Homo sapiens: one gene and its partner. The protein of the gene in region 1 purifies or fractionates together with the protein of each later gene. This does not show direct contact. Each region holds a gene or a part of one and is shown in the gene's direction. Other genes may lie near its edges.

What was found.
Region 2: the proteins of SCGB1D2 (region 1) and FSTL1 purify together in Homo sapiens (affinity purification with mass spectrometry; one large-scale study listed by BioGRID and IntAct). This does not show direct contact.

What each region holds. Positions count from the first base shown.
Region 1 is NC_000011.10:62,240,611-62,245,126, forward strand, and holds SCGB1D2 (secretoglobin family 1D member 2 precursor), read left to right. Parts: upstream 1-1,628; 5' UTR 1,629-1,697; coding exon 1,698-1,752; intron 1,753-2,678; coding exon 2,679-2,866; intron 2,867-4,059; coding exon 4,060-4,089; 3' UTR 4,090-4,202; downstream 4,203-4,516. UniProt on the Homo sapiens protein: May bind androgens and other steroids, may also bind estramustine, a chemotherapeutic agent used for prostate cancer. May be under transcriptional regulation of steroid hormones.
Region 2 is NC_000003.12:120,398,889-120,402,701, reverse strand, and holds part of FSTL1 (follistatin-related protein 1 precursor), read left to right. Parts: intron 1-2,742; coding exon 2,743-2,819; intron 2,820-3,813.

The sequences.
Region 1 (4,516 bases):
AGTTCAACCATTGTGGAAGTCAGTGTGGCGATTCCTCAGGGACCTTGAACTAGAAATACCATTTGACCCAGCGATCCCATTACTGGGTATATACCCAAAGGATTATAAATCATGCTGCTATAAAGACGCATGCACACGTATGTTTATTGCAGCACTATTCACAATAGCAAAGTCTTGGAACCAACCCAAATGTCCAACAATGATAGACTGGATTAAAAAAATGTGGCACATATACACCACGGAATACTATGCAGCCATAAAAAATGATGAGTTCATGTCCTTTGTAGGGACATGGATGAAGCTGGAAACCATCATTCTCAGCAAACTATCGCAAGGACAAAAAAACAAACACCGCGTGTTCTCACTCATAGGTGGGAATTGAACAATGAGAACACATGGACACAGGAAGGGGAACAGCACACACCAGGGACTGTTGTGGGGTGGGGGGAGGGGGGAGGGATAGCATTAGGAGATATACCTAATGTTAAATGATGAGTTAATTGGTGCAGCACACCAACATGGCACATGTATACATATGTAGCTAACCTGCACGTTGTGCACACGTACCCTAAAACTTAAAGTATAATAACAAAAAAGAGAGAGAAATTTCTAGTGATTGATTTCCTGCTCACACCACACAAAGGCATCACAGCAGGAGGGCAGGAGGGTGTGTATTGCTTTGTCTGGGTGCTTCCTTCCCTTTCTATTAAAAATGGGATTGGCTCAGGCTGCACAGCTAGATTTGAAGTGGAAAACTTGAGCCTAGAGGTTGGGGGGAAGTGACCACTCACCCTGATCATCTGTCTCTTCTTTTCCATCTTCTTCCCCTCCTGGAGCCCCAGAGCAAAGAACTCTCAGTACCTGTCCGATGCATGATTGGCTCTGGACACTCCAAAAGCTACTTGGAAAAAGTTAGGCTATGTAATCATCAGGTCAACCCATCAACATGTGGGTGGCTACACATCACAGAAAGCTTGCTCCTCGTAGAGAGAAAATGTGAGTCTTGGCCATATTTATAGCTGCACTCATAAACAAGACTCAGGTTTGGGAGTGAGACAGGCTAGAGAACAGGTGCAGCAGTTGCTTTTCCCCAGGAAATCCTCCAAAGGTAAGATGCATTGAACTAGGTTTTAGGTACCTATGCAGTGAACATGGTGGTGATGGGAGGGGCTGAGGGGAATAGGTCTTGTTTAGACTTGCTCAATGTGCAACTGAAACAAGCCTACTGGTTGTCAGACATGCAGGGGGATCAAAGCAGGGTTTCCTTATGTCCCTGCTCCCCCATAACCAGAACACAGCCTTCCAGCTTCCTGTGCCTTCCAAAGTCAGAATTTACCTGTGCCCTTGAACTGATACAAAGAAAAAAAATAATCAGCAAAACTCAGAAGGAAACAGAATCCCAGGAATATTTCCAGAGGTGCCTGAACATTCACCTGGAACACAGAGCAGAGTTCCTGCAGGGCTACCCTCCTGTGCTCTGCCCCAGTCAGAGTGCAGGGAGGCGTGGGGAGGTGACACAGATGGATGGCAACAGCCCTGGGAAGGAGAGGTGGGCTGGGAGCCAGGCCTCATGACCAGTACCAGCTAGACTCCCTAGGTACAAATAGCCCTGGGCTCTGCAGCTCCACAGGCTCCTGGGGTGGAGTCCAAATCACTCATTGTTTGTGAAAGCTGAGCTCACAGCAAAACAAGCCACCATGAAGCTGTCGGTGTGTCTCCTGCTGGTCACGCTGGCCCTCTGCTGCTACCAGGGTGAGTACATCAGTCATGAGTCTAGCTCCAGCCCCTGGGAAGCACCCTCTTCCAAGCACGAGGTCACCTATTCAGGCTGGGGTTAGGATCTGCACAAAACCAAAATTCCAAACCTTTTTCTGTGCTTGTTGAACAAGCCCCTCATCAAGTTCAGAGCTATTTCTTCTACTCCCCAGCACCTACGAAGTTTTATTGAAAATCAGTGCAGGCAAATATTAGGAATTCTTCTGCCTGAGCTTCACTCCTGGGTGGGATCTGTGTCAGATGATGTAATGTGAGGTCTGGGGTGAATCTGGGATCCGCCACTTCCCAGCCCTTTGACCTTGGGCACAATGCTCACCCTCCCTGAGCCTCCTCCTATCACTGGTAGTTAGCGCTTCTGCCAGGAGAGGCTATGAGAATGGAGTAAGAAAGATTAATACTGTCAAAAGAGTCTAGCTGTGGGCTAAGCATGGCGGCTCATGCCTGTAATCCTAGCACTTTGGAAGGTCAAGGAGAGTGAATTGCTTGAGCTCAGGAGTTTGAGTCCGGCCTAGGCAACGTGGCGAAACTCCAGCTTTACCAAAAGAAATATGAAAAATCAGCTGGACGTGGTGACATGCACCAGTAGTCTCAGCTACTTAGGGGGCTGAGATGGGGATATCGCTTGAGCCCAGGAGGTAGAGGCTGCAGTGAGCCATGATTGAGCTACTGAATTCCAGCCTGGGTGACAAAGGGAAAAAAAAGAGTTTGGCTGTTGATATGAAGTGCTTTCCTTTATTGTGAGAGCTTGAGGAAGTCACACCTGAAGGGTCTGGCATTGTCATCAGCACAACAAATGTATGTGAACATATAACCCAGGGGATCCTGTCTGGTCTAACGTCAGGGAGCCAAAGAGAAAAATCGACTTTCCTAACATCAACTATATTTTTATTCTTTTGCTGCAGCCAATGCCGAGTTCTGCCCAGCTCTTGTTTCTGAGCTGTTAGACTTCTTCTTCATTAGTGAACCTCTGTTCAAGTTAAGTCTTGCCAAATTTGATGCCCCTCCGGAAGCTGTTGCAGCCAAGTTAGGAGTGAAGAGATGCACGGATCAGATGTCCCTTCAGAAACGAAGCCTCATTGCGGAAGTCCTGGTAACTTCTTTCTCCTTTATTTGTTAAGGCTTCTGGTCAGCTGCACAGTATGAAGTGAGGTCAGCTTGCTGCTCTGTTGGGGACACAGGTGGTGGGGCAGCTGCCTTGCTGGTCACCTCTTGAGAAGGTCACCTGGGGCCACAGGGTGGGTGCCACCATTTCACCTGCAGAATTCAACTCAGCTGCACACAGCCTCCTGCATGTTCCTCCTTCTCATGTCACCTGCCTGGATGCCATGTCCCCAGAGTGTGCTGAGGACATGGGGAGTGAGCCTGGGCCCAGGCAGAAATGGTAAAGGGCCAAGCATGGCCGCCTCGCTGCTGGGAGCTTTCCTGAGACCAAACTGCCCTCATGTAATGGACACAGTCACTGTGGAATGTCCTGGGGAGCATGGGAGCCTTGAACAGGGAGAGGAAGGCAGGGAGGGACATAGAGCAGGGGCTCCTGCAGATGTAGCACTGGCAGGCTGGACTTCTCTGCAGCTTCTGCAGAGCCAGGAAGGAGCCCCTCCCAGCTCCTGAGACCCCATACTCCCCTCCACACCCACGACACTCTCCTGACCATGGCCAGTCGTCCAAGACCCTAGCTAGTCTACCTCCTGCAGTGCCATGGAAGCGGGATGTTCTCACTCTGTCTTTCTCAAGAAATCAGAGGTTTTCCAGGGGCCTCTCTGCCTGGCTGCCTCTGAGTTGCTGTCCTGAGGTTTAGCTGCAAATGCTCATGGAAGCTGCAGGCTCGGGACTGAGAGGTGCTCGGGCCCTGAGGCAGAATTCCCACATGGGGAGGCTGGAGTCTCCTGGAAGCCAAGCTTCCCAGAAGCCCTCTCAGCCCTGACCAGCCTCTCAGTCCTGGGTCCCTCACTGCAGGAACCAGGAGACTCCAAGCCCTGGGACAGCCCAGGCAATAACCTCTTGCTGCTCTCTCCAACCCTCGTCACTTGCTTCCATGAGGATCCTGGGCCTCATTCCCGGATCACCCCAGGGCTATTGGCCTGGCAAGAAAAGGCTGCTCCATCACCGGCATGGGTGCTGTGAGGCCACCAGGTCTAGGCCTCAGTTTCCCAAACTGAGTTGTTGCCTCTGCCCTTCCAATTGCCTTTGGGGGCAGAATCCCACTGGCCTCTTGGATGTGAGCCTGTCACCTCCAGCAGCAGCATGACTGACCCCACCTTCTTTTTTCTTTTCCTATTTTAGGTGAAAATATTGAAGAAATGTAGTGTGTGACATGTAAAAACTTTCATCCTGGTTTCCACTGTCTTTCAATGACACCCTGATCTTCACTGCAGAATGTAAAGGTTTCAACGTCTTGCTTTAATAAATCACTTGCTCTCCACGTCTCCACTGGTCTTGTTATAATCCTGCAGTCTCGAGCCTTGAGTACAGGGTGGTTTCCATAGTGGAGTGGCCTTTTGCTGTGGGTGATAATTAACTCCAGAGAACCAGCATCCTGTTACTAATGGGGCCTGAGTCCAGGTGTCACAGAGGAGAATATTTGGTAGGAATTATCCTGCATTCCTTACAGATTTCCCATCTTGCAGCCGTGAATAAAAACCATGGTAACAAGGACACAGGAATTGAAATGTTCCACTGGTCTTACACTGAGAGAACCCCCAGCCTGAATGGGTATCCAGGCCGAGGGTTCCCACCTATC
Region 2 (3,813 bases), on another chromosome or scaffold:
GAGCAAGGAACCCAGGCAGACCCACACCTGTAAGGTTGGAGCCCCAAGTGGGGAGCTTTGAGGGCAGAACATTTATCCCATAGGCATTCAGTTTGAAAATCACTCCAGAGGCTTGGAATAAGAGAGGACCAAGACCCTGGGCAAAAGTAAATGATAATGGAATAGTAACATTATGGAAATAGTAACAGTGAAAGTAGTAATAATGGAATAATAATTAAAAATAGTAATTATTTAATAATTAAAACATTAAAATAAAAACAATAATTATTATTTAATAATAATCAAAAATAATAATGGAATAGTAACAGTGAAAGCAAATACTCAGCAAAAACCATGTGCCAGGCTCTCTTCTAAGCACTTTACATATTAACCCATTGATCCTTATAACACCTTAGGAAATGGTAAAAGACTAGTGGTTGGAAGACAAAATGACTTCTCCTTGCCATACCCAGCAGAAAAAGAAAATATGTTTGTAGACCCTCTTTCAACTAACAGAGATGGGTAATCTTTTTTAAAAAGAGAAAGTTGAGCTAGTTGAGATATGTGCAGGGTGGTCTGGGGAGACAGAGAAATCTGAGAGTTTGTGGGGCAGTGTGAGGCTACAGGGTATGTTGGAACCACTGGAGTCCCATCTGGGTCCTGGGCTACAATGATGCCAAAGATCAAGAGGGACTCTTAAAGCCGAGCCCTAGCAAAGAACCAGGGATATTCAGAGTGGAGGCAAGACAGAGAAGGGTGTTGAAGCCAGGTCTGCAACGGAGAATTGCCTTAAGGTCATTTGGAACCAGGCCGAAAAGTTTCACCAGCTAGGGTGAACCTAAAGTTATATCAGCCAGGCGCAGTGGCTTATGCCTATAATCCCAACACTTGGGGAGGCCAAAGTGGGAAGCCCAGGAGTTCAAGACCAGCCTTGCCAACATAGCGAGACCATGTCCCTACAAAAATGTGAAAATTAGGCAGGCGTGATGGCACGTGCCTGTAGTCCCAGCTACTTGGGAGGCTGAAGTGGGAGGATCACCTGAGCCTGGGAGGTTGAGGCTGCCATGAGCCATAGTCACGCCACTGCATTCTAGCCTGGACAACAGAGCAAGACCTTGTCTTAAAAAAAAAAAAAAAGTTTATTTTAAGAAGTTAACTGTGTCAAGGAAGAGCTGGCTGGAACCTAAGATAATGTTCAGGAAGATCAGGTTAAATGGTAACTAGGAGACAGAGGTCAGAAACCCAGGATGAGGCTCTTCTAGACAAGGATCCTAGAGAACAGCAACAGTATAAATGGCCCAGTACTATCTAAGGTATCACTGGTCTACCGCTGCCCAGGACCAAGTCTGTTTTCAGTGTGGAACGACAGCAAACCAATGTAACTACAGGGACAGGTGAAGGAACAGGAAGAGGCTGTTTAGAGACTAGAAATTCCTACAAGTTCCTAGAAGTCAAGACCAAGCCAGGATCTCCAGACCAAACACAGAGTTGCTACTGAAACCAACAAAACACATCTCAAAACAGTCAGTGGCCTAGCCTGCCTCAACCATGAAGCATCCTATACTTGTCTTCCCTAAACTCCCTTCAGTACCTCTCCGCTTCTAACTGCTGCTGTTCTGGCTTTGTAAAGGTAGCCCTCCATTTCTAAGGTGCAGGCAGTTGGTATGCAGTTGGCTTATAGAATAAGCATGGTCATTTGGATAATAATCTCTATCACATGCATCAGACAAAATTCAAATGATCAGCTTCATGGGATGTTGCCCATTTCCACAGCCACTCAGCTATGGGCTGCTCATCCTCCCTGGATGACCAAGTCCAGAACTCTATGTGGGTATAACATGGAGCAACCCATGTTAGATGGTGGTGCCCCAGGGGCCTGAGCACGTATGGATGTGTAGGCCGTGGATCTAAGAGGAGTTTGTGGAGCCAGCATTCTGGGGCATTTTCAGGTTAATACCTGAGAGTTAGCAGTCTGATCTTAGATCACAAATCAAAATGGGACAAGCAAGAAGGGGCATCAAAATTTGAAGCCAGGAGGAGGCAGAGCCAAGGGAAACTGCTGTGAAGGGAAGGTTGATAGCAATGTTTGGAAGATATGTCCTAGAAGTGTTTCCTAATGGTCAGCATTCTACTTGATAAGCCTAGAGATTTCATCCTAAACCTAGTAAATCAGAATTTGCAAAAGAGCAGCTTGGGAACCTGTGTAGTTTTTGTTTTTGTTTATCACTGTGCAAGTTTCAGAAACATTGCTAGATGAAATGGTTGTCAACCCTGGCTGCACATTAGAACCAACTAGAAAGACTTGTAAAAAAATACTGGTGTCCAGATCTCACCTCACATCAATTAAATCAGAATCTCTGAAGGTGGAACTAGACAGCTATCTTTTCAAATGTTCTCCAGGACATTTTGATGGTATATGAATGACTTGAGAGTCATTGTCTCAGAGAAATCTCCAGTGTCAGGATCCAAGTTTTCACCATAACTTTTTTTGTAGGGCCAGCTTCTGGCTGGGATGTGCTAAGCAGTTAAAGGAACAAAGGCCAGAGAGGAGTTGGGGTAGATTGCTTTGTTACAATGTGTTACCTTGGAGGTATCAATTACACAGGGCCCCTTCATGCCTTCATACTCAGAAAATGTGGGTAATTCACCTCTCCTTCCACAAGTTAAATGGGAGATGAATTGAGAGCCTCTAGGTAGATCTTGGCGGATTCCTCACTGGCTTACCACAGCTGCTACTGCTCTGAGCTTTGGTTCTTCTTGCAGGAAAGAATCAGAAGGGGGCCCAGACCCAGACAGAGGAGGAGATGACCAGATATGTCCAGGAGCTCCAAAAGCATCAGGTGAGTGGCAGCCTCCGTGCTGGTTCAGGTGTTGCTGTTGCCATCAGGCCCTATACCATTCAAACACTGCCCAGTGCCCCAGGAGACCAAGGAGGCTCTCTCTGCTCAATACAGTACATCTTGAGTGATACCCCATCACCTGTACTATCAAACTGTGATACAGACAGTTCCCTGATAAAGTCCTCACAGGGCCCAGTAGGTCTCAACACATATAGGTTACAGCTCGGTGAGTGGCTGCATAAGGCAAAATCAGGCAGGTGGTGATTTGCAAATGAGGTGGAAGTGGTTTGCAAATGAGCGTGGTTTAAGGAAGTGTGTATCCTGTCATGACCAGTGTCCAGACCCAAAGACTGTGAGCTCCTGAAAGCAGGCTCTGTAACTTGCTCATCATTGTACCCTTGCAGTCTCACAGGGCCTGGTATGTAGTCAGCACTCAGTGAGCATGAAAGCAGTGGATTTGGGCCACAGCAGAAAGGATTTAAGTTCAACATCAGTCTGGCTAGAAAATAGCCTGGGGTTAACAAAGAGTCTCCTTCCCAGAGACTCAAGAAGATAATAAGAATTTTGTTCAGGTTCTATGTCATTAAGTTAAAGGCTTCCTTGGGGAAAGGGTTCTTAGCAGAATAGTGATGCTCTGACATATTGTGGAACTGTTGAACTCCTGGCCCATCCTCCTACTGGCTTATTATGTAGTCTTAATACAGGATATTGCACCTTCCATTACCTGTCCGTAGACCGAATGTAGTAGTATTAGCCTTCTCTCTGACATAGAAGTTTTTAAGGAATATAATGGTCACAAGAACTGCTAAACTATTGATATGAAATATTTGACATGAGTAAACAGAACTATTACTATTAATAGTAATTGCCCATTTATTGATCATTCTTAATGTGCATTTTGTCATCATTGTCACTGATAGTATAGAAATCTCATGTCGGTTGTTTAAGCAGAAGCAAAAGCTTCTAGTCTTTTGCTTTTCAAATTTCACCAGTC